2 separate regions of the Homo sapiens genome follow, and region 1 is linked to region 2. The links come from fine-mapping of genetic effects on gene expression. A gene starts in region 2. The other region holds a variant in brackets. All regions are shown on one strand. Distances are from middle to middle. Region 1 has its middle 59 kb from the start of FOXD2. Region 2 holds the start of TAL1 (TAL bHLH transcription factor 1, erythroid differentiation factor).

Region 1 (11,277 bases), 260 kb before region 2:
AAAATCATCAAGCTGGGCAGAGACCTGTCGTCAAGAGCCAGTAGAGATTTGGTGAAGGATGTTCCAGGCAAAAGGAACAGCATAGGCAGAAACCTAGAGGAAGGATGGTGTTGGCCAAGTTCCAGGAAAGGCAGTAACAGACCAATGTGTAGGCTGTAGACTCGAAGTGGCAGGAAAGGCAGATGGTAAGGTTAGTTGGAATCAAATCATGCCATATTCCATCTATGCTGCTACTGATATTAGAGGAAGGGACCCAGAGGAGGGTTTGAGCTGAAATAGGACCACAGCCAGAGATGAAGTACAGGGAGCAGGATCTAGCTTCCCAAAGATTAGAGGAAAGACAACTGAGATGATCTGGAAGAAGGACCTTTAGGACCTAGCCAGGGAATTTGGGCTCAGATCCTTTCTCTGAGCAGAATAAATAATAAATAGCAGTCGGTAAATGATAGCTGTCATTATGATCAGTGGTCAGTAAGTGCTGTGGTTTGTTACCCACTGACCTCATCCCCAGGCAGTCAGCATGGGGCCAGAGCCATTGCTTAACTGCTGGGAGCTCAGATATGATGGAACAATGACAGTTTACAGATTCGCCATCGAGCTGTGCCACCCTTCCCTTGTTCTGGTGTCCAATATCAATGAGAAATAAACCGCCAGGGAGAATACTATGAATACAAGGGCATTTTAGGGACCAGTGAAAATTATCTAAGGCAGAGGAGCTACTTTATAAGAGTCCCTACAAAATCCACTTACGTGAATCTCTCCTGTCACTCTCACAGCAACTCTAGGTGGTGGGTATTTAAGCTCCATTCTAGAGATGTGAAAACCAAGGCTCAGAGAGAAGTCATTTGTCCAAGGTTCTTAACTAATAATAGAGAGACGTCAGTTTTAAAATCCAATAAGTGGTGCATGCCTGTAGTCCCAGCTACTCGGGAGGCTGGCATGGGAGGATGGCCTGAGCCCAGGAGGTGGAGGTTGCAGCAGCTGAGATCGCACCACTGCACTCCAGCCAGGGTGACAGAGCCAGGCCTTGTCTCAAAAATAAATAAATAAATAAATAAATAAATACATAAATAAATAAATAATAAAATCCAAGAGCTCTTTTCCCTACATAAGGCTGTGTCTATGGATCAAAGCAACGAAACCCAAGTTCAGTGTGTACTTCAGCTACGCAAGCACCTTCACCCCTGATGGGCCCATCAGCTTACTGGATGCCAAACCTTATAACACCTGGCCATGAGGCCTTGGAACTCATCTTGCCCCCAGGTCAAGCACATGCTTCCTTCCATTGGCTGGGAAGAGACTGGAGATTTCAGAAACCTTGGATCCAGTCTCAAATTCTCCAGTTCCTGGCTACATGGTTTCACCTTTCTAAGCTTGTGCTTCCTCATCCAAAAAATGAGGATAATAATGCCTTCTTCCCATGTATGTTGTGAAGGTCCAATGTGATAATGTATAGGAAAGAGCTTTATAAACTGAAAAGCATGGTGCAGACTTGTTTCATTGCCCAAATCACAGACAAACAACACTATCTTATAAACTTAAAAGCTTTTGCTAGTTCATGTCTTCCAGATTTACGGGAAGGCCTTCTGGTCTAACAGCCAAGTCTAGTTCACAGATGATTTGCAAGGCAGGAGTGATTGATGACACTTCATTTATTCATTTGTCACACATTTGCTAGTCTCTTCTGTGCCAGGCTCTGTATTGAGCACTGGTGAATAAAGACATAGTCCTTGTCCTTGGGCAGGTGGTCATTGGGGGAGACAGAAACAGACAATAATGATCCAGTTGTAGTCAATGATAAAGTATAAGCAAGTACAAAAAGAGTATAAACAAGTGAGGTGAACTTCTCTGAGAATTAAAGGAAACTGCCAGGTAAGGTTTCTGAGAAGGGATTATTCGCACAAGGTGTCAAATAATTTTTCTATTTCTTCATTCGACAAATATTTATGGGGCTCTTCTAAAGTACTGAGATACATCACCAAACAAAATAAATAGTCCCTGCCTTCAAGGAGCTTAGTGGAGAAGACAGATAATAAAAAGAAGAACAAATAAATTATTACATGCCATAATCTCATATCATATATATTATATATGTATAATGTGATATATAAATACATTATAGTGATATAAGGTGTTATAAAAAAGCAGAGTAAAGTTGTTATACAAATATAATAAATATTAGGTATTTATTATAATAAATAAGTATTAGGTGCTATAAAAAATAAGGCAGAATAAAAAATAAGACAGAGTAAAGTAAGTAAGGCTGGTAAGGGTAAAGGGGCTATTCTATATGAACTGATAAGGGAAAGACTCTAAGAAACTGATGGTTGACCACAGACATGAATGGAGTAAGGACATGAGCATTGAATTATAATGAAAAAAAAACAACAAAAATTTGTGGAATGTAGCTAAAGTTATTTGTATAGGAAATTTTTAAACTTTAAATGTTTATATTAAAAGATAAGAATAATTTAAAATCCATGATCTAAATTGCCATTTTAAGAATATAAAAAAAGAGGAGTAAAGAAGGGGAAACAAATGTTGACGATGAGTAAAACTTACTGAAATAGAAAATAAATAATAAAGAAAACCAATTAAACCAAAACTGATTCTCTGATGAGATTAATAAAATTGATATGCCTCTAGCTAGACTGATCAAGGAAAAAAAAAGAGAAGACACAAATTGCCAACATCAGAAATAAAAGAAAAGACATCACTACAGACATTAAAGTGATAGAATATTACGTACAATTTTATGCTAGTTAATTCAACAACTTAGGTGCAATGAACACATTTTTTGAAAGACACAAATTGCCAATACTGACACAAGAAGAAATAGAAAATCTGAATTAGCCCTATGTCTTTAAAGAAATTGCATTCATAATTTTTTTAATTCCCACAAATAAAACTCCAGGTGTTTGCAATAGTGAATTCTTTCAAACATTTAATGAATAAATAATACAAAACTTACATAAACTCTTTCAGAAAATATAGGCGGAGGGGGCACTTTCCAATTTATTATATGAGATTAGTGTAATTCTAATAACCAAAACCAGGCCTAATTATTATAAGAAAGAAAATTATACACCAATACCCCTCAAAAACATAAACACAAAAATCTTTTTAAAAGTACTGTCAAATCAAATTTGGTTACATATATTTATATATGATATATAATAGATCAATACATAGATAGATAGATAGATAGATAGATAGATAGATAGATAGATAGATAGACAGACAGATAGAATGACCAAGTGGGGCTTATCTCAAGAATACAGGTGGCTTGTACAATTTTCCAAATTAATACAATGAAGGAGAAAAATCAAATGATCATCTCAATATGGGCTGAAAAATAATTTGATGAAGTTCAATACCCCTCTACAATCCAAATTCTCAGCAATCTAAAAATAGAAGAGGACTTTCTCAATCTGATTTTTTAATGTGAAAAACATACAACTAACATGACAATAACGAAATATTAAGCTCTTTTTTCCCTAAGATCAGGAACTTAAGACTGCTTGATTTCAAGAGTTACCATAAAGCTACAATAATCAAAAAGTTGGAACCGGCATAAGCGTAGACAAACAGGTCAACAGAACAGAGTCCAAAATAGATCCACACATATCAACTGATTTTTGACCAAGTCAATTTAATAGGGAAAAGAAAGTCCCTTCAAAAAATAGTACTAGAACAACTAGATAACTATATGGGGGAAACTGAACCTCAACTACTACCTCAACCCCATACCAAAAATTAATTATTCAAAATTGATTCTAGACCTAAACTTAAAAGTGAAAACTATAAAACTTCTAGAAGAAAACATGGGGGAATATATTTGTGATTTTGGACTAGGCAAAAATTTCTTAGGACACAAGAAAATCACTAGCCATAAGATAAGAAATTATTAAATCAGACCTGATCAAATTTTAAACTTTTATTCATCAAAAAATATGATTAAGCCTCTCGGCCTTAACCTCCATCTTCCAGTAATTCACCAAAACAACATAAAGGGAAAGAGGAGAGGCACCTGATACATATTCTCTAGGCCTTTTAGGAAACATGGAGTTGTTCCTTTGAATACACGTGAATCTGTAAGAAAGGCAATATTGTAGACATCAAGGAAATGGGCACTGTTCAAAAAGCAATACCTCACAAATGTTAACCATGGCAAACTGGAAGAGTCTACAGTGTCACTCAGCATTAGTTAGTTAACTTATTGGGCAAGATTCTTGCCAAGAGAATTAATGTGCATATTGAGCACTCTAAGAGCCAAAATAGCTTCCTGAAATGTGTGAAGGAAAATGATCAGGAAAAGAAGGAACCAAAGAGAAAGGTACCTGGGTTTAGCAGAAGCACCAGCCTGCTCCACCCAGGGAAGCACACTTTGTGAGAACCAATGAAAAGGAACCGGAGCTGCTGGAACCTCTTCCCTATGAATGTATGGCATAACAGGTGTTAAAAATAAGAGACCTCTGGACTGTAAAAAAAGAAAAAAAAGATAAAAGAAAATCAATATGGCCACCTTATATTACATATTATATTTAGAATATGTAAGGAATTCATAATAAAATGACAATCCAATAAAAACTGGGCAAACACTTGAATAATCACTTCACAAAAGATATACAAATAGCCAGTGAGTGCATTAAAAAGTACTCAACGTCATTAATCATCTGTAAATTCAAGTTAAAATGACAAAGAGATGTAACTACACACCCACTAGAATAGCTGAAATGATAAAAGGCTGACAACAGCAAATGTTGGCAAGGATGTGAAGCAATCAAAATGCTCATAATGCTCATATAGGCCAGGAACAGTGGCTCATGCCTATAATCTCAACACTCTGGGAGGCTAAGGCAGGAGGATCGCTTGTGCCCAGGAGTTGAAGACTAACCTGGGTAACATGGTGGGACCCCATCTCTCCAAAAACAAACAAACAAACAAAATTTAAACCAGCCAAGCATGGTGATGCACTCCTGTAATTCCAACTACTTGGGAGGCTGAGGTGAGAGGATCACCTAAAGTCAGGAGTTTGAGACTTCAGTGAGCTGTGATTGTGCCACTGCACTACAGCCTGGACAGCAGAGTGAAACTGTCAAAAAAAAAAAAAAAAAAAAAGGAAGGGAAGAAGGAAGGAAGGAAGGAAGGAGGAAAGGAGGGAGGGAGGGAAGGAAGGAAGGAAAAAAATGCTCATATATTGCTGGTGGGAGTGTAAAATGATACAACCTCTTTGGTAATTTTATATAAAGTTAAAAATACATCTACTCAACCCAGCAATTCCACTGCTGAGTATTTACCCAAGAAATAAAGACATATGTCCATTTCTCTTGTATAAGAAATGTTTATAGCAGCCTTATTCATAATAGTCCAAAACTGTGCATAACCCAAATAAATGAATAAACAAAATGTGGTATATCCATTAAATGCGATACAATTCAGCTGTCACAAAGAACTACCCACTAATCTACCAATAACATGGATGAAGCTCAAAAACATTAAGCAAAAGAAGCCAGACACAAGAGTTTGACAAGCAAAAACTAATCTCAGCCGGGCGTGGTGGCTCATCCATGTAATCTCAGCACTTTGGGAGGCCAAGGTGGGCAGATCACCTGAGGTCAGGAGTTTGAGACCAGCCTGGCCAACATAGTGAAACCACGTCCCTACTAAAAATACAGAAATTAGCCGGGGGTGATGGTGGGTGCCTGTAATCCCAGCTACTGGGGAGGCTGAGGCAGGAGAATCGCTTGAACCCCAGAGGTGGGGGTTGCAGTGAGCTGAGATCGCACCACTGCACTCCAGCCTGGCTGACAGAGTGAGACTCCATCTTAAAAAAAAAAAAAAAACTAATCTCTAGTGTTAGAAGTCAGAACAGTGTTTGCATCTGGAGGGTAGAA[T/C]TGATTGGGAAAGGTAATGAGGGCACTTACTGGGTGATGAAAATGTCCTGGCTTGATTGAGGTCATGGTTACATAGGTGTGTACATTTGTCAAAGTTCATCAAACCACACTTAAGATCCCTACATTTCACGGTATGTAAAATATACCTTAATTTAAAAAAAAAAGGAGGGGGTGCCAGGCGCAGTGGCTCACACCTATAATCTCAGCACTTTAGGAGGCTGAGGCAGGAGGGCTGCTTGAGCCCAGGAGTTCGAGACTGCAGTGAACTATAAGTGCACCACTGGACTCCAGCCTGGGGCAACAGAGTGACACCCTGTTTCTAAAACATAAAATAAAATCAGTTTTAAAATTTGTGATGAAATCCACAAAAAGGCAGCAAAGAGGACTAGAGAAAGGTGTGGCCGGAAAAGGCTACAGTGAGGAGGCAGTATTTGCACTGAGGCTTGAAGAGCAGGCAGGATCTGGATGGGAGTGTGGTGAGAATCAGAGATGTCAGATGTGAAAGAACTTAGAGAATTGCTAAATATAATGGATTGCTTAGCTGAATCGCTGATGCCACCACAGAGCAAAAGAAGAAAGACCAAAATAAGCATTTGAGGAGAGAGTTGGGGGTGATCACATGGAGCTCCACATCTCAGGAGATTGGTCAGGGACAGATCCTGGAGACTGGAGCATGTGTACCCTGGAAGCACAGCAATGTGTCAGGGGTAGACTCAGCACCTAGCTCACTGCTGGGCACATAGAAAGTACTAAATAAACGTTTTTGAAACGTGAAATATAAATAAAAGTGTTGCTCACAGGTCTGAGCCTGAGTGATCGCTTAGAGCCCCAGAAAGGACATGAGACTGGCTGTGGTTCTCCCTGCAAAGAAGCTGAGTATAGTCGGGGAGTGCTGAACTTAGACACATTCTATCACGCAGCTCAAGCTGCCCTGGGGGTGCCATATAACTTTATTGTAAGCTCGTGCAACAACACAGGCAAATGGAATAACAATGTAAAGTTGGCTTTAATTAAAATGAAGGGTGTTTGCCTCTCCCTTCTTTTCGTCTTAAGCCAGGCAGCCTGCTGAGCTGCACAGAGCAATCAAAGGAATGTTTCTAATGCAGGAGGCAGCCCCCCAACCCCCAACATTCAAGCGTCCCCTCTCACTCCCCAGCCTCCACCACACTCCCTTCTTATATGATCCACATGGCAAAAGGAAAACAGGAGTGGTGATGCCCCTCTAGGAGGCACCAGGAAAGGAGAGAGTGTTGCCAACCAGTGTGGGAAGGGAAAGGGTTCCAGCTGCAGAAATCTCATCCACGGAGCCATTCCACCCATGCCTCCTGGACTATTGAGTGCTAGCTAGACCTTGTGCCCAGTGTTGGTGCCTATTCTGAAAAGAACTCCCTGTCTGGTGGAAATTCATCAATACAAAAGAGGTATCCACCAAGGAAACCATGAAAAGTCCATGAATCCAGGGGTTCATCTATTTTCCCTGACACCTGAAAAATAAAGTTGATCCTAAGAATTTGCTAACTAGAGAGAAGGACCATATTTGAAGGGCCCAAAAGAGATGGCATGGTGCTAGGCACTTTATATACTTCATACCCTGTATCAGCCTGTGATGTGCAGGTAAAGGTTTAACCAGATAAAGTTGCCATTTGTAGGGAGAGGAGAGCCCCAATTTATAGTGTTTGCCAATTTCCCTAGTGTAAATTCCCCCAGAGAGGCAGATTTCAAGCTACCAATATGATATTAACTAGCTCGTGAAATTTCTGAAAAGTTACCAATGGGCTCGCACTGGTGCAGCACACCACTGGTTCTAGCTGTCTGTGATGCTCTCGGCCAGCTAGAGGAATTCTGAACACTAATATCTCAGCCAAGGGTTTTCATTCAACAAACACTTAAAGAGCATCTTCTCCGTGCTAGGCTTTGTGCCAAGAGGTCTCAAATCCATATTAAATAATAATATAAAAATAGAGTTAGCATCTATTGAGGGTTTGCTATATGCCAGGCTCTCTTCTAAAGGCGTTTCACAAATCCGTGCATTTAATCCTCAAAATCCTGTGACATAGATACTACCTATTAGAAAACTCAGGCTCAGAAAGGATAAGTTACTTACCCATGATCACACAGCTAGTAAAAAGAAATAGCACATAGTTGTGGCCATTCAATGCCCTTCCTTTCTCCATTCTGAGTCCAACATTCTCCAGGTAGAAGCCAGAAAATTCTCATCCCCAGACCTCTTTGTGGCTCAGGATCAGACATATGACCCAGGTGCCATGAATCAGACACACCTGGGTGAAACCTAGATTCAGAAGAAGGAGGCAGCCAGGTGGGGCAAATGATCTTATGACCAGGGCAGTTGCAAAGGCATCCAGTTCTTTGGAACAGCAGTGGTGGAACTTCTGGTATCCAGCCCTAAATGCTATAGGGACTGAGTGACCAGGCAGTGGTGTTTTCACTAAAAATGTCCTCATGGTTTGGTCAGGCCTTTTTCCCAGGACCCTCCAGGGATTTCTGTAAGCTGCCCAACATCCTGTAATAAATCCTTGTTCTGCTTAAACTAGCCATAATGGACTCTGTTGTTTGCAATTAGGAACCCCGATAAGATGGGGGATCCACGGTTCAAACTGAGCCTTGCCTCCAGAACTCAAACTTTGACCCATAATGATACACAGCTTTATTTTCTCCTCTCTGCAACTCCGTAAATGAGGCTCTACTCCTCCCATTTCACAGATGAAGAAACTAAGTCTAAAAGACATCAGACCAACTGCCTGAGATTACATATTAAATTGAGCCACATGAAACTTGATATTCAATCATCTTTGGCCTACTTCATACAGTTCAACCTAATGGAAATGGCAACTTCATTATGGTTGAACCTCATAGAAATAGGAGTTTAGTATAGATTTATGTGACTCCCAAACCCTTGCTTTTCCACTGCCTCTGCTTTCTCACAGTCAGGCCTGTTCATGGAATCTAGTGCATGAGAAGTGCACTCAGGTGGTCTTAGTTGGGGAGGTGAGGCAGGGAGAGGTTCACCTTCCAGTGGAACCTAAAAGACCAAGAGAAGTGGAAACAGCAGATTACCATCTTTACTTGCTGCTTCTTGTGCCCAAGCTCGGAGCTCACCCCTTTTGGGGAGGGCACTGAAAAGAAGGCTTGGTCCCTGCCTGCATGGAGCTTAGGTCAAGGATTCTTGCAGGGGCCATATTGGAGGAGAAATAGCACAGGACCACGAGAAGAATGAGAGACACTTAACCTGTTAGTGTGCAGAGGGAAGGCCTCCTGGAGGAGTAGAGGCCATAGAGTTATCTTGAAGGACTGGTAGGTTGTGGGTGAGTGGAGAGAGGTGGCAGGACATCAGGCAGTAGGAACAGCACGAGCAAAGGCAAGGAGACTGGAATGGGCACAGCTGTGTCAAGGGAAATAAGGAAAGCAGTTTAGGAGAACAATAGGGACCAGATGAAAAGAAAGGCTGAGAAGGTGATTTGCTCATTCACCAGCCCTTACGGGGCACCCACTATGTGTCAGATGCTATGCTAGGGATACAGCTCTGGGCCACACAGACTTAGTCTCTGCCCTCATGGGCCTTATGACCCAGCAGGGAAGCCATGGGTCTAACAAGTAAGGGGCAAAGAACTCATTAATTGCAGTTTGGCTATTTTTTGTCAACATTAAGTTCGGGAGCAGTAGGAGAGCCATGAGAGAGGGTGACACCTGAAAAGAAGTCAAAGAAGGCTCCCCTGAGGAAGTGGCATTTAAACTGAAACCTGAAGAATGATGATAAACTAGGCAATGGAGGAGTATCCCAAGGAGAAGACGCAGCGCATAACAGGGCCCTGAGGTTGGGAAGAGCTTGTCACAGTCGAGGAACTGAAAGAAAGACAGTGGGGTTGGCGTGTGCTGAGTGACACAGGACCAGGGACACAGAGGACACAGAAGACAAGCCAGGAAGGCAGACCCAGGAGCCATGCTGCACGGGGACTGGCAGAGCATGTTAAGGAGTTTGGGTTTTAGCCTAAGAACCAAGAGAAGTGACAAAATCAGCTCTGTACTTTTTTTTAACAGTCACTTGATTTGCTCTGGGAGAGAATGGGCTAGAGGGAACAAAAGTGGAGACCTACTAGGCAACTGTCAGAGTCATTTGAAGGAACAGTGACAGCAGCCGGGGTGGAGTCATGGCAGGGAGGAAGGATGGAGGTGCAGTTGTTTCAGGCGGATTCCAAGTTTACTGACTCAGTGAGCCAGGACAGTGCAAGTGTTACGTGATGTAATTTCCCCTTCCTCAGTTTCCTCATCTGTAAATGGGCGGAGCAGGTCCTTACCCACAAGGCTGTTGAAAGTACTGAAGTGAGTTGACACACAAGGAAGAGTGAAATGGTGAAAGTTAGCTATGTTTGGCTGACTCAGGTGGCTTTGTGGAGAGGATGGGAGTCCCATTTTGGATGCATTCAGTTGGAGAAGATTATGGGTCATCCCAGTGGAGACATCAGGTAAACTGTCAGGTGGACTCAGGAGGGCGGTCTGGAGGAAGTTTGGGGACTGCTGGTGTACAGATGGTATCCAACACCACAGGAAAAGAGGAAATGTCCCAGAGAGAGCATGCAGGGTGAGCTCCCAGATGAGCCATGGGGCTTTGCCCGGCTTTGCATGCCAGGCTAGGGCACTGGAGCTTGCTCCTAGACCCCAGGAAGAATAGTGGGAATGACAGTGGCTTTGGCAGTGCCCCTGGGGACATCGAGCAATTCATCCTGACTCTGACCCCTGGCGGTCTTAGCTGGTGGCCTTTCCCTGATTCCCGGGGGAGTCAGGCCTGAGTCAGCTCCTCTGGGCCCTGAACCTGTCTGAGCCTTCAGACCCACGGCTTAGGCTGCTAAGCCCCAGCTCGTGCTGACAAATCCCTTCTAATGGGGAGATCAACCTTTCAATACTATGCGACTCGAGAGACATGTCCCAGGGCTGCAGACAGCTGGCTGGGCACTGGCCCAGAGAGGCCATGGGAGAGTGGGCATCCCAGCACTGTGGGCTCTCACAGGCCTCTCTGGCTGTCACCACCCACTCCAGCAGCTGCAGGGACTCCCAGTGCCCTGGCTTAGCAAAGCCACATGCTGGGTGTCCTGTGGGAGATTCAGAGAACAGATGAGAAAAGAATCTTGTCCCTGTGTGGCTTTGATGACCAAAATCGCATTAAAAGGAGTGCCGTAGCCCTTGGGAAATATGGTGGCTTCTGTATTTCCCACCTTAGGTTTTTGAACTTGCTCTTTTTTTCTGCCTGGAACATTCTTCCTGCAGATATCTGTAAAGCTTGCTCCATCATCTGCTTCTAGTCTTTATCCAAAAGTCATCTTCCCAAGGAGGCAGTCCCTAAAATTACAAGCACAACCCCTCAGTG
Region 2 (11,277 bases):
GCGGCAGAAGCAGGAAGCAGTGCAGGCACACATGGCAGTGCCCAGGACATAGAGTCCCCTTCAGGGGCCCAGGAGTCTTGTCCACATGTATTAATGTGTACTCCTGGGCCAGGACTCTGTCTCAGTGAGCATCAACGACTATTTGCTAGCCAGAGAACTGGTGGCTATGCACATGTTCTGTCCTTTTCTAACAGCTCTGGGAATAAAATCATTGATGGCAGAGCTATTGGGGTTCTCTGCTCATGAGGACAGTTAAGTTTAGACACTATCTCTTCTGTAAGTCTGGAAAGCAACTTCGGTCTTCTGTATGCTTTGGTCTTCCGCATGGGTTAGGGAAAGGGAAATGGCTTTGAAACATTAAAAAGCACAGGCCGGGGGCGGTGGCTCATGCCTGTAATCCCAGCACTTTGGGAGGCTGAGATCGGCAGATCACCTGAGGTCAGGAGTTTGAGACCAGCCTGGCTAACATGGTGAAACTTCATCTCTATTAAAAATACAAAAAAGGCCGGGTGTGGTGGCTCATGCCTGTAATCCCAGCACTTTGGAAGGCCAAGGCGGGCGGATCACCTGAAGTCAGGAGTTCGAGACCAGCCTGGCCAACATGGTAAAACCCTGTCTCTACTAAAAATATAAGTAATTAGCTGGGCGTGGTGATGCATGCCTGTAGTCCCAGCTTCTTGGGAGGCTGAGGCACAAGAATTGCTTGAACTCATGAGGCAGAGGTTGTGGTGAGCCAAAATTGTGCCATTGCACTCCAGCCTGGGTGACAGAGGGAGACTCTGTCTCAAAAAAAAAAAAAAAAAAAAATTAGCTGGGTGTGGCGGCATGCACCTGTAGTCCCAGCTACTCAGGAGGCTGAGGCAGGAGAATTGCTTGAACCCAGGAGGCAGAGGTTGCAGTGAGCCGAGATCACACCATTGTATTCCAGCCTGGGAGACAGAGTGAAACTCTGTCTCAAAAAAAAAAAAAAGCACGGTGTTTTCTTAACACAATTTTACTTTGGCCTTTGCTACAGATGGGGGTTGTAAACTAGAGAAGTGGTTCTCAAATTTTGTGTGTGTGTCAGAAATCATCAGGAAGGCTTGTGAAAACAAATTGCTGGGCCTCACCCTCAGAGTAGTAGTAGTAGGCCTGGGGTGAGGCCTGAGAATTTGCTTTTCTAACAGGTTCCTCGGTGATGCTGACCATCCACTTTGAGAGCCACTGAGAGTGAAGTTCCTTCCATCCCTGAGAATTCTGACAGCAGCGTTGGGGTTTGGAAGCACAGACGTGACTCCCAAGCTCGGAATTCTTGAGGCCTGCTTACTGATGGGGTAGGGGTTCTTCCAGGGCAAGAGACAGAGGCAAAAATGGAGAGAATAGTCCTTTGAAAGTGGAAGAGGGAAATAATGACATTTCCTCAAATTGAAATTTTCCTCATTAAAAATAATCCTTATATAAACAGTATTATGTATGGAAAATGAGCACCTCTCTTCTGCAAATAAGGAAAGTGAACCTCAGAGATTAAGTAATTTGCCTGGTATCATACAGCTGGCAACTAGGGGAGCAGGGATAGGAGCTCAGGTCTGCCTGACCATTGTGCTTGCTTTGCTGCTTTCGAAGCACTGTGGCCTGAAGCCAGACTGCCCTAGGTGTGAATTTTGCCTCCACCACTTACCTGCTGGGTGTTCTCTGCAAGTTGCTCAACCTCTCTGTGCTACCTACAAAATGGAGTAGTCCCTACTTCATTAGGTTCTTGCAAGGATTAACTGAATTAATACTTACAAAGTGCCTAGGACAGTACTTGTCACACAGTAACTGCAGTGTAGATTTGTTAAAAATAAACTCGGCTGCTCATCAGAGTGCATGCATGGCATCTTTCCGGAGAAGAAGCTCGGGGGAGAAGCTCAGAGATAGTCCAGTACTCAGAGAGGGCAGGCAGAAACACTTGAAAAATGGTAAGAGGCTTGGCTTTGGGGTTTAGGGAGAACCCAACCTTTGGTGGTGGGGAACAACGGCCTCAGGGCCAGAGCCTAGCTAGCCTGTTCTTGTCCCCTGCTCTTGCTGCCCCAGTTCCAGACTCCAGACTTACCAGTCTGGGTCTCAACCTCCCCTCCCTCCTCGCCACCCCCACCCCAGGCGCTCCGGGTTTCCTGCCCGACTGGGGCCTCCGTTTGGGGCGGGTGGAGGAGGGGTGGCATTTCCTGGCTGGCCCCGGCCTGTCACTCTCTCGTGGACGCTCGGACAACTCGCTGACCGACAGGCACCAGATGCTATTTCAGGCAGCGCCCCGCTTAGCGCACAGCTTCCGTTTTTCCACTGACCATCGGAAACAGGGGAGGGGGCAGATGTAGACGTCATGAGACCCCAGCCCCTGGCAGGGCTTTGGTGGATGAGGTCGGGAGTGGCTGCCTGACTGTCAGAATCTGGAGCTTGGCAGAGAACAAATGTGTGGAATTGGAGGGTTGGTGAACGTCACCTCCTCGCTCCACAGACAGAGGCCTGGGCACACCCTCTGCCACAGGGCTGAGAAACGCCTTTCCACCTGTCCATATTCCTTCACCACAGGAAAGGACACTTTCCTTGGAGGTGCTGGCTGGGGACATTTAATGCCCTGTAAAATAATCCAACAGTCTGCAGGTGTCTCAAAGGCATCTAAACTTAAGGAGTTCAAAACCAAATATATAAGCCCTCCCCATGTCCCCTCAGCCTCCAGGTTCCCCATCTCCAGGAATAACCACCACTAGCTCTGCAGGACAGCCAGAAACCCAGGGGTTTTCCTGGATTCCTTCCTCTCCCTCATCCCCCCAAACCCAATTCTTTTTTTGTTTGTTTGTTTGAGACAGAGTCTCGCTCTGTCGCCAGGCTGGAGTGCAGTGTCGCGATCTCGGCTCACTGCAACCTCTGCCTCCTGGGTTCAGGTGATTCTCCTGCCTCAGCCTCCTGAGTAGCTGAGACTACAGGCGTGCGCTGCCACACCCAGCTAATTTTTGTATTTTTAGTGGAGACAGGGTTTCATCATGTTGGCCAGGATGGTCTCGATCTCTTGACCTCGTGACCCGCCTGCCTGGGCCTCCCAAAGTGCTGGGATTAGAGGCATGAGCCACCATGCCTGGCCCAAATCCAATTATTATAAACCCAGTTTTATACCCCAAATACATGTCATCTTCACTTGCCTCTTGTCATCTCTTCTGCCAGCACAGTGGTCCAAGCTCTAATCCGCTTCCCCTAACCACTGCATTGGCTCCACAACTGGCCTCCCAGAGTCCTTCCCCCTCCACACTTCATCCAAAGAACTTTCTAGAAATGCAAATCTTATTCTATACAAGGTACCACCCCCACCTTCAAACCAAACAAACAAAAAAATGTCAAAAAATCTTTTAACTTGTCCACAAGCATGCTCCAGCCATACTGGACACTTTTCTATTCTTTTCACGAACCTACCACCCTTCTGTTCTAGCCCTTGGTCCAGCTGTTTCCTCAGCCCACCTGGAAGGTTCTGGATACTGATGCTTCTCCCCACCCCCCTTCTTCGCACCCCCAAATTTCACTCTTAGATCTCAGTCCAGGCCTCATTTTCTCAGAGAAGCAGTCCCCACCTGGGCTCTCCCATATGGGAATGGCTAGCCTGTTTTTACAGTGGCTCAGAGACATGAAATCACTTCTCTAAGGGTCCCACAGCCCAGGAATGGCAGAGTTGTGTTTCAGACTCAGAATTATATGACTCTCATTTTCTAATAAGTGATGGAGCCAAGCAAAGGCCTTATGGTAGGGGGGAACTAGACTTTTTCTTAGGATGTGGGATTCTGTGAGAGTTATCTGTATCCCCATGACAGCCTGACTTCCTTCAGAGAGCACAGGAGGAACAGAGGGGACAGGCGGCACTGAATTAACTGTATCTTCTCAGAGGGTCAACCTGATGACCAAGGAGAAGCCAGATCCCAGACTGGGGCCATGCTCTCTGCTCAGTCTTTGACTGGGACTCAGTTTGTTACCAGAGTAGGGGTTTTCCCCCAGTTCTCAGGCTCCAAAAAAAGCTCAAAAGCAGAGACACTAGAAGGACAAATCAGCCTGGCATGGAAAGTAGAGTTGTGGACTGGGAATTGGACACCAAAGTTTGGGTCCTGGCTTTTCCTTTGGGTTACTGTAAGTTTTGGCTAAGTCACATCTCTCTGTGTCTTAATTTCTTTCTCTATGATGATAACCAGAACTCCCATGCAAGTGCATATGATGTTTTCCTGGGCTGTGGACTGAGTGACGTTCCATACATTATTATCCTCACCACCACCTTTTAAAGGTCATATAAGTTAGTTCTCATAACTTTGTGACGTCGACATTATCTCCCCATTTTACAAATGAGAAAACTGAGGTTCAGAGATCAGTGACTAAAATTCGAACATGTGTTCTTTCCACTCCACCATGAAAGAATGAACCCAGAGACCCTCCGTGGGCTGAGCGCATCATCCAGCTGGCACTGAACTCAGATTTCTACCCCACAGTAAAGACCCTGGTCTCTGCAATGAGTTGAGCCCAGGTCCCTTTCCCTGGCTAGGTTTTGGCTGCCCCTCTTCATCAGCTGAGCCGCAGAGAAGACTCCGTGTCAAATTTCCTTCCAAGGCAGACTCCACCAAGCACTAGCTATGTATCATTCGAAAAGTTACTTTGACTTTCTGTGCCTCAGTTTTCTCTTCTGTAAATTAAGGATCCAGCTTCTCAGGACTGTTTGTGAAGAGTAGATTAGTATTTGCAGAATGCCTAGAATAGTGTTACAGTCGCTAGATTAAACTTTTTTTTTTTTTTTAAATACCATGTGGGGAGCAGTGTTCCTGGGCTCTGGGCTCAGCCTGAAACCTAGCAGAATAGGCATTTTATGTCCCTATTGACAGGGGTTCTGCCAGGCCGCCGTAGAGCCCATGGATTTGAGTTACCGGCTCTATTTTAGAAGGGGGTGAAGAGGTAGGGAAGGGCTGGGGAGCTTTCTGGGATAGGGAGACTGCCCATTGAAATCTGGGTGTCTGGGACACTGGAGGAAGAATAAGAAAGAAGCCCTGGGAGGTGACGATTTTGGTATCATGGTGGTCTTCAGAGGTAGGGACAGAGTGCTGGGGTGAGAGTCGCTGAAGAAAGGTGTCTGAAAGGTTAAGGGACTGAGGTTGTGGGAAGCTGGGGTTCCTGAGAGGCCTTGGGATTAGAGATGGGGGCTGGATCTGCTGGGTCCTAGACAGCGCGTCCAACGCTCCCCGCAGCGCGTTCCGGAGCCGGTCCTAGCGCCGCTCAACCAGTCCCCACTCCCTCCGGTGAAATTGCCAAATTAAAATGAATCATTTGGCCCATAATGGCCGAGGCGCTTATCGGGGGCGGGCGGACCCGCGGCAGTGCCTTATCTCTGCGGCGCACACGGCCCCGGCGCGCCTCGGCCCATGCTAACGAGGCCTGGAACGTGAGTGGGATTACAGCGCGTCGGTGGAGGGGCCGGGCGGGCGCGGGGCGGGCGGGGGAGCGGGGGCCGCGGGAGGGGCCGGGCCGCCGCCGCTCAGGACCGGGCCTCAAAATGGCCACACGCGTACCCCCGTAGCGGAAAAACGTGAGCATTCTGGCCTTTTTCTAGGGGAAAAGCAACCCGCGGCCTCCCACCGAATTCTTCATCAATTTCCTCCTCTTTTTCCCCACGTCCGCAAAAGAGGTCTTCGCTCCCTTTCCCTCGGTTCCTTTCGATGGCCGGGGGGGGCGGTGGGGGGGCATTTTCCACGGACGCCCCCGCCCCGGCTGCCGCCGCCCCTCCCGCCTCGGAGACTCTCTTCCTTCCTTCCCCCTTTTCCTTACGCAATATACAGAAATGCGCGAGGCTGTGGTTGGTTTTCATTTCTTCTTCGTGGTTGTGTGCATGCGGTGGGATTGTGAGAGTGCGTTCATGAGAACTGTGGGCGGCGTTGGCTGCTTCTAAGTGTGGTCTTCTTGGCGACAGGCTCTGTGTCCGAGTGTGGTGTGCCTGCGCGGTTGGGGTGTGTAGATGTGGACCCTTCGAGGCCCTTCTGCGTTTTCTTCGTTGCGTACGATTGTGCTCCGTTGGTGTTCTCAGCAGGGATCTGATTCTGTGTGTGGGGGTGTGTGGCCCCTGCGACTGTGTTTGGGTGGTGTCGTCGTTATGTCGGGCGTGTGTGATCCCGACTGTGCTGGATTGTGTGTCCGTGAGCCGCTGCGTTTGACTGATTTCGTTGTGTCCTGTTGGGCAGTGTGCGGGGCTGACCAAGTCGGCTTCTGGGGCAGTGCTAGGTGGTGTTTGTTTGCTGCCCTTCTGTGGGGCTGGACCCTGTGTGGTCCTGTCCGCACTGAGTTGTATGCCTGTGTGCCTGTGTCCTTTAGAGGTGCGTTTGCAAATCGCTGGGGGCGGGAGTGGGGGGAGGGCGAGCGAGAGATCGAGGCGCTGGTGGGGGCGGCGGCATGGGGGCGGGGAGCGGGATTTCACATTTTATTCCAAATTATGATGTATTCGGGAGCCAGTTGTTGGCTTGGGTGGGCGGACAGCGCCCGGTCGGCGGCTGCTCTGCCCGGAGGCCCGCCTGTGCCTAGGTGTTTGAGGGGTTCGTTGGTGAGTGGGAGGCTCCTCCAGGCTTGAAGCTGAGCAGCGCTCGCCGAGGCCGGCGCCTTCGAGCCGGTAGCTGCGGGCTTCGGTTCCCGCTGCACTCCGGCTTCATCCATTTCTGGTCAGTTTCGTGGGTGCGGCCGCCGGGCTCCAAGGGAGAGGCCCCGAAAGGACAATGGGCACATTCACCAGGCCTCGAGCCTCGGGTGGGGACATTCGGGATCACCTCCTGGGAAGATTTTCCCGCCCCCTCTTCGGGTGAGCGACGTTGCCGCTTGGGTCTGATACCCGTCGCATCCGAGACCGAGGCCGAATCCGGGCTCTGGGAGGGACCGGGTTAGTGGGGCCCTAGCTCGGGTTGAAAGAATTTTGTTTTGTCAATTATTGTAATTGCTAATGCCATCACCATCACAATCGTCATCATTAACATCTATTTTAATTAAAATAATCATCCCAGAGCGCAGCAGTTTGTCCCTTTTGGCTCCTTTGGCGGGAGAACAAAGCAGCGGGTTTTTTTCCGCTACAGCCGTTTTCTAAGTTGCTGGGTTTGAGGTAGGAAGAGAAAATGGAGAGAGGCACGGACACAGAGACTTGGTCATAAGGCAAACATTAACCCCCAGCGAACACGCAACATTAACCCCCCGCGAACACGCCGGGAATGGATGGATTCCCCTCTTCTTTCCTCCCCTCCCCTCTTTTGGATTAGAAGAGGAGAAAGAAAATCTTCCGCATTGTATTGCAATCCAGGGAAGAATTATTCCTATATGTCCACCAAAGCCGCGGCAAATAGAAGGAGGCCTTCGCAGTTAATCCAAGACTTCGATGTGTGATCATAAGCCTGACGATTTAGGCAAAACAAATTAAACAAAATCCACTAGGAAAAAATAAAAGCAAGCTCAATCCTGCTACATCCTTGAAAGTAGTGTCGGGTTTGTTTTTACCTCCTTTCCTTTTACCTTGTTTATTGCTGTAACAAATCATTAGAATTCTCCCTTACTCTGTCTAAACCCCGAAAAATCGAAAATCATTTCGTAGGGGTGGTGGAGGGGAAGGTGGGGGACTTTTCCCCTTTGTTTCTTTCTTTCCCCCTTTGTTGGTCTTTATTTCCTTTTCTTTTTCTGTCTCTCTCTTCCTCTCTCTTTCTTCTTTCTCTTAATCAGTAGGGAGACGAGAAAGGACCTGAACAGATCAGATATCTCTCTCCAAGCCCCCTTCCCAACTCCATTTCTGTAGGAAAGTACAGCCCCTGGAATTGGGTTCTGGTTTCGCTTTGGGCTGGAGGTGGGTGGATGGGGGTCAGAGAGAGAATGAGGTGGGGGGGACTTCAAGGTTCTGTCCCACCGACCAGAGTCTGAAGACTATTCGCCTTTCCCAACACGGACCTCCGCCCATCCAGGCCCGGGACTATCCCTTCGCGGTGTAGCGGCAGCCGGAGACCTGGCTGAGGAGGCAACCGCGTAGACACCTCCCTGCTTAGAAAACAAACACTGAACCAGACCGATCCCAGTTGGAGGGTTCGAAAATGTTCCAGACAGCCTGTCGGGAGGGGTTGTTGTTGCTGTTGGACTAAATAGCTATTCCTGATTGGTCATGTATAGGGTTTTTTAAGGCGGGTGGGGGGAGGAGGGGGTAGAGGAAAGGCTCCAAACACCTGCAGGTTGGGGGCGGAAAGCTGTTTGCGATTCCCTGGACTGGTTGGTCGGGGACAGGAGGTAATTCCCAGCCATTGACCCCCATTTCTCTCTCTCCCTCCCTCTTGCCCTGCCTCTTTCTCTCCACCCCTATCTTTCCTGGAAACTCGCTTTGGGCGCGGCAGATCGCCCAGGACCACACCGCAGCGTAACTGCAGGCCTCTCAGCGAAAAAGGGGGAAAGCAAAGACCCGGGTGTGCATCCTCTTCCTCGGCTTCCGCCCCTTTCCGGCGGAGTGGAGATCCTATTCAGAGGGGCCGGTCTCTCTAAATATGCCCCAGGTGAGTTTTCAGGGGAATGGTGCCGGTGGAAACGGTGTCTAGGAAGGCCTTGTGTTCCGGCCTGGGGTGAGGAAGGCTCAGGACAGAGGAGAGCCCATTCTCAGATTGGGGGTGGGGGGAGGGGAGGACCAGCCAGAGCTTGGAATCGGGATCTGACTGCTGTAGCTGCCTCTGTGGCATTCAGCGGCTTTTTCCCTTTTCCACCCAGGGTAAAACCAGCTAGTTGGACTTAGTCGTCCAGGCCTTTCCCATTGGTCCCGGTTCTGTGGACGTTTCCCAAGGCCGGTAACTTTGGGGCGGCTGTATCCGGGTGGTACAGACTGTGCCTGGAGCTCCCGCAGGAGGAAGGCGGCAGCCTTCCTGGCTAGTGCAGTCCCAGCTCGAGTGGGCCCTGATCCCAGGCCTGAGGCCTAGGGTGGGGAGGCAGGAACACCCCTCTTCTCCGGTAGAGGCGAGGATGGTGGTGCTGTTCCCTGGTGGGTTTGGTACTTGTGCAGGCTTGGGGCTTCTCCAGGGTGTTGTGCTGGTGTGGGCCCAGAAGAGAGACCAGAGGCTGGGTCTAAGGGCCTGAGGCTGTTTTCATCTAAGAAATTCTCTGTATGGGGGATTGGGTCTGCTTGAGACCTGTCCCCAGGAAGAATCTCCTGGGGTCTTCTGTCTTGTTCTGGCACAGGTGGAAATATTCTGGCTGTCTGGCAACTGCAGATGAGGATTTCCTGTTGGGGGCTATAAGCAGGGTCTCCGTAGTACAAAGAGAGAGGAGCTGTAGTCGTCAAATACTCTAGAACGATTCAGTCTAAAATCTCCCTCCTCCTTCATTCTCCCCAAATAAAAACAAACAAAATCTCTCGGGCGTTCCTTTCTGTAATCCAAATCAAGTGATGCAGCTTAGTCGCCAACAACCATCAGTGTTTGTGAGTGGCTTCTTTGGGGCATGGACCTCTGGCTGGTAATCCTAAACCGGCAGGATTTTCCTAAAATGTGGGGAGGAGCCGGGAGAGGTCCTCCACAGATCCTGGGATCCAATCATATATTTCTTACAAGGAACCTTGGCGATGGGATATTTATAGGTGTCTGGAGAGGACATTTGTGGCCAGGGTCAATTCATCTGGAATATGTACTCCCATTGCCTCTCAGGAATCCACCGCTAGAGCAGGAGCCTAAGAATTAATTGGAGGGTAAAAATGTGTCATAACAGAGCTTGAGCTCAGTCTGCAACTGCAGTGCACACTGTCACTCGGTTAGAAGCTGGGGCTTAAGCATGGATCACTGGGCTCACACCGGTGTGTCAGGACGGAGAGCAGTGAGGTAGGGAACCAATACCTTGAAGCTTGTATGTTTCCCAGGGGTTGGTATATTTCTGGCACATTTCGCTGCTGCTGGGAGCAAGAGGACCTGGCTGATATACTTCTGGTGCATTTCCAGTGGCCTTGGTGTCTTGGTGGTTGCATTCTATGGATAGAGACCTATTGTCTCCACCAAAATCATAAACTCACTTCCAATGAAGTGTCAGGGACCTACTGCCTTTACAGCTTGTATACACCAGGACTTAGGGAATTTTGTGGTTTCTGTGCCAGACCTGGGGGGCTGGCATTCCCAAAGAAGGTGTACAGCAGTCTGAATCTTGACTCTCTGTCATCCTGGGTGTCTAGTGGCAATTGAGCCAAGCTCCAGAGGAGGCTGCAGATGATCCATTCTCCCTTCTGGGGTGGGAGGGATGGTTCCTAGGATGACTCCTGTCCAGAGCATTGCAGTGGCAGTATGGGAGCTCAATGGCTGCTATGTATGATTTAGATGGACTCTGCATGGGGGTAAATTGTTTTTTTGTATTTGTTTTCTTCTTTTAAATACCCAATTATATAATTCAGAGAGCAGAAAGCTTATTTTAAACAACTTATGTGGTGTTGATCATATATGTACAACTCACAACTCACAAACTCTGGCCCTTGAGTCTCCTGATTTTTCTGTTTTGGTTCTTGCTGGTGCCCAGCTCTATCTGGATGAAGCCAGGTGATGGAAGAGCCCCAGCACACCTGTGGGAAGTAGAGTGGCTGTGGTCATCTCGGAGTATGCTTGTGGGGTCACAAGGTGGTTTCACTGCTCTGGGAATACAGGAGGGTTGAGCAAAGTGAGATTATTGCTCTGGTCTGGCTCTCTCACAGATAGGCTGTGAGTGACTTGACATTCGGCCAGGCAGTTTTCTCACTGGCCCATTCTCCTTGTTAATAATGTTTACTTGAACGTTTGCACAGCACTTTCAAATGCATAAAGGAGGTATTCCTCCCATTTCCCAAAGAACACCAAGGCAGGAGATGGCGGTGAGGGGGGCTGGAAGAGTTCAAGGGCCTCATGACATCCTGTCCTGCTCTTGGATGGGAGTCCAGACCCCACTGGCCTCAGGGAACCCTTCAAATGCCCAGCTCCATTCTACCTCAGCCAGGCCTCTCTTTGAGACTCGACCTCACTTCAGAGTCCAGCTGAGCAGAACGAGGTGGACTGTGCAGGGAGGTTGGGCCAGCACCATCTTCTTCCCTTGGCGACCTCTCATCTCTGTCTGAGTGGGAGTAAAGATCCGCTGGGCGGGCAGAGGACTCACAGTGGATTTGCTCAGTGTAGACAGACACTCCCTCACTCCCCAGCGGGGGCGAATGTGTGTGTGTGTGTGTGTGGAGGGAGCTGGTTCCTCGGGATTATTCTCTGCCAGCTCTGGCGGAGTGGATCCCAGTCCCCGTAGCCTCCACTT

Evidence for each region. PIP is the estimated chance that this variant, and not a neighbour inherited with it, causes the effect.
Region 1: its variant is the best candidate, but not a certain one, in a credible set for the expression of TAL1 in whole blood (INTERVAL, PIP 0.86).

What each region holds. Positions count from the first base shown.
Region 1 is chr1:47,491,067-47,502,343 of GRCh38, reverse strand. It overlaps the pseudogene RPL21P24. Among named protein-coding and RNA genes, the nearest start is that of FOXD2, 59 kb to the right of the region's middle. The variant T/C (reference allele first, on the strand shown) is at 5,898.
Region 2 is chr1:47,226,453-47,237,729 of GRCh38, reverse strand. TAL1 (TAL bHLH transcription factor 1, erythroid differentiation factor) reads left to right here and starts at 5,505. Exons shown (of 5, transcript NM_001290403.2): 1 at 5,505-5,563; 2 at 8,379-8,534. RefSeq lists enhancers at 5,336-6,309, 6,310-7,283, 7,476-8,437, 8,438-9,399.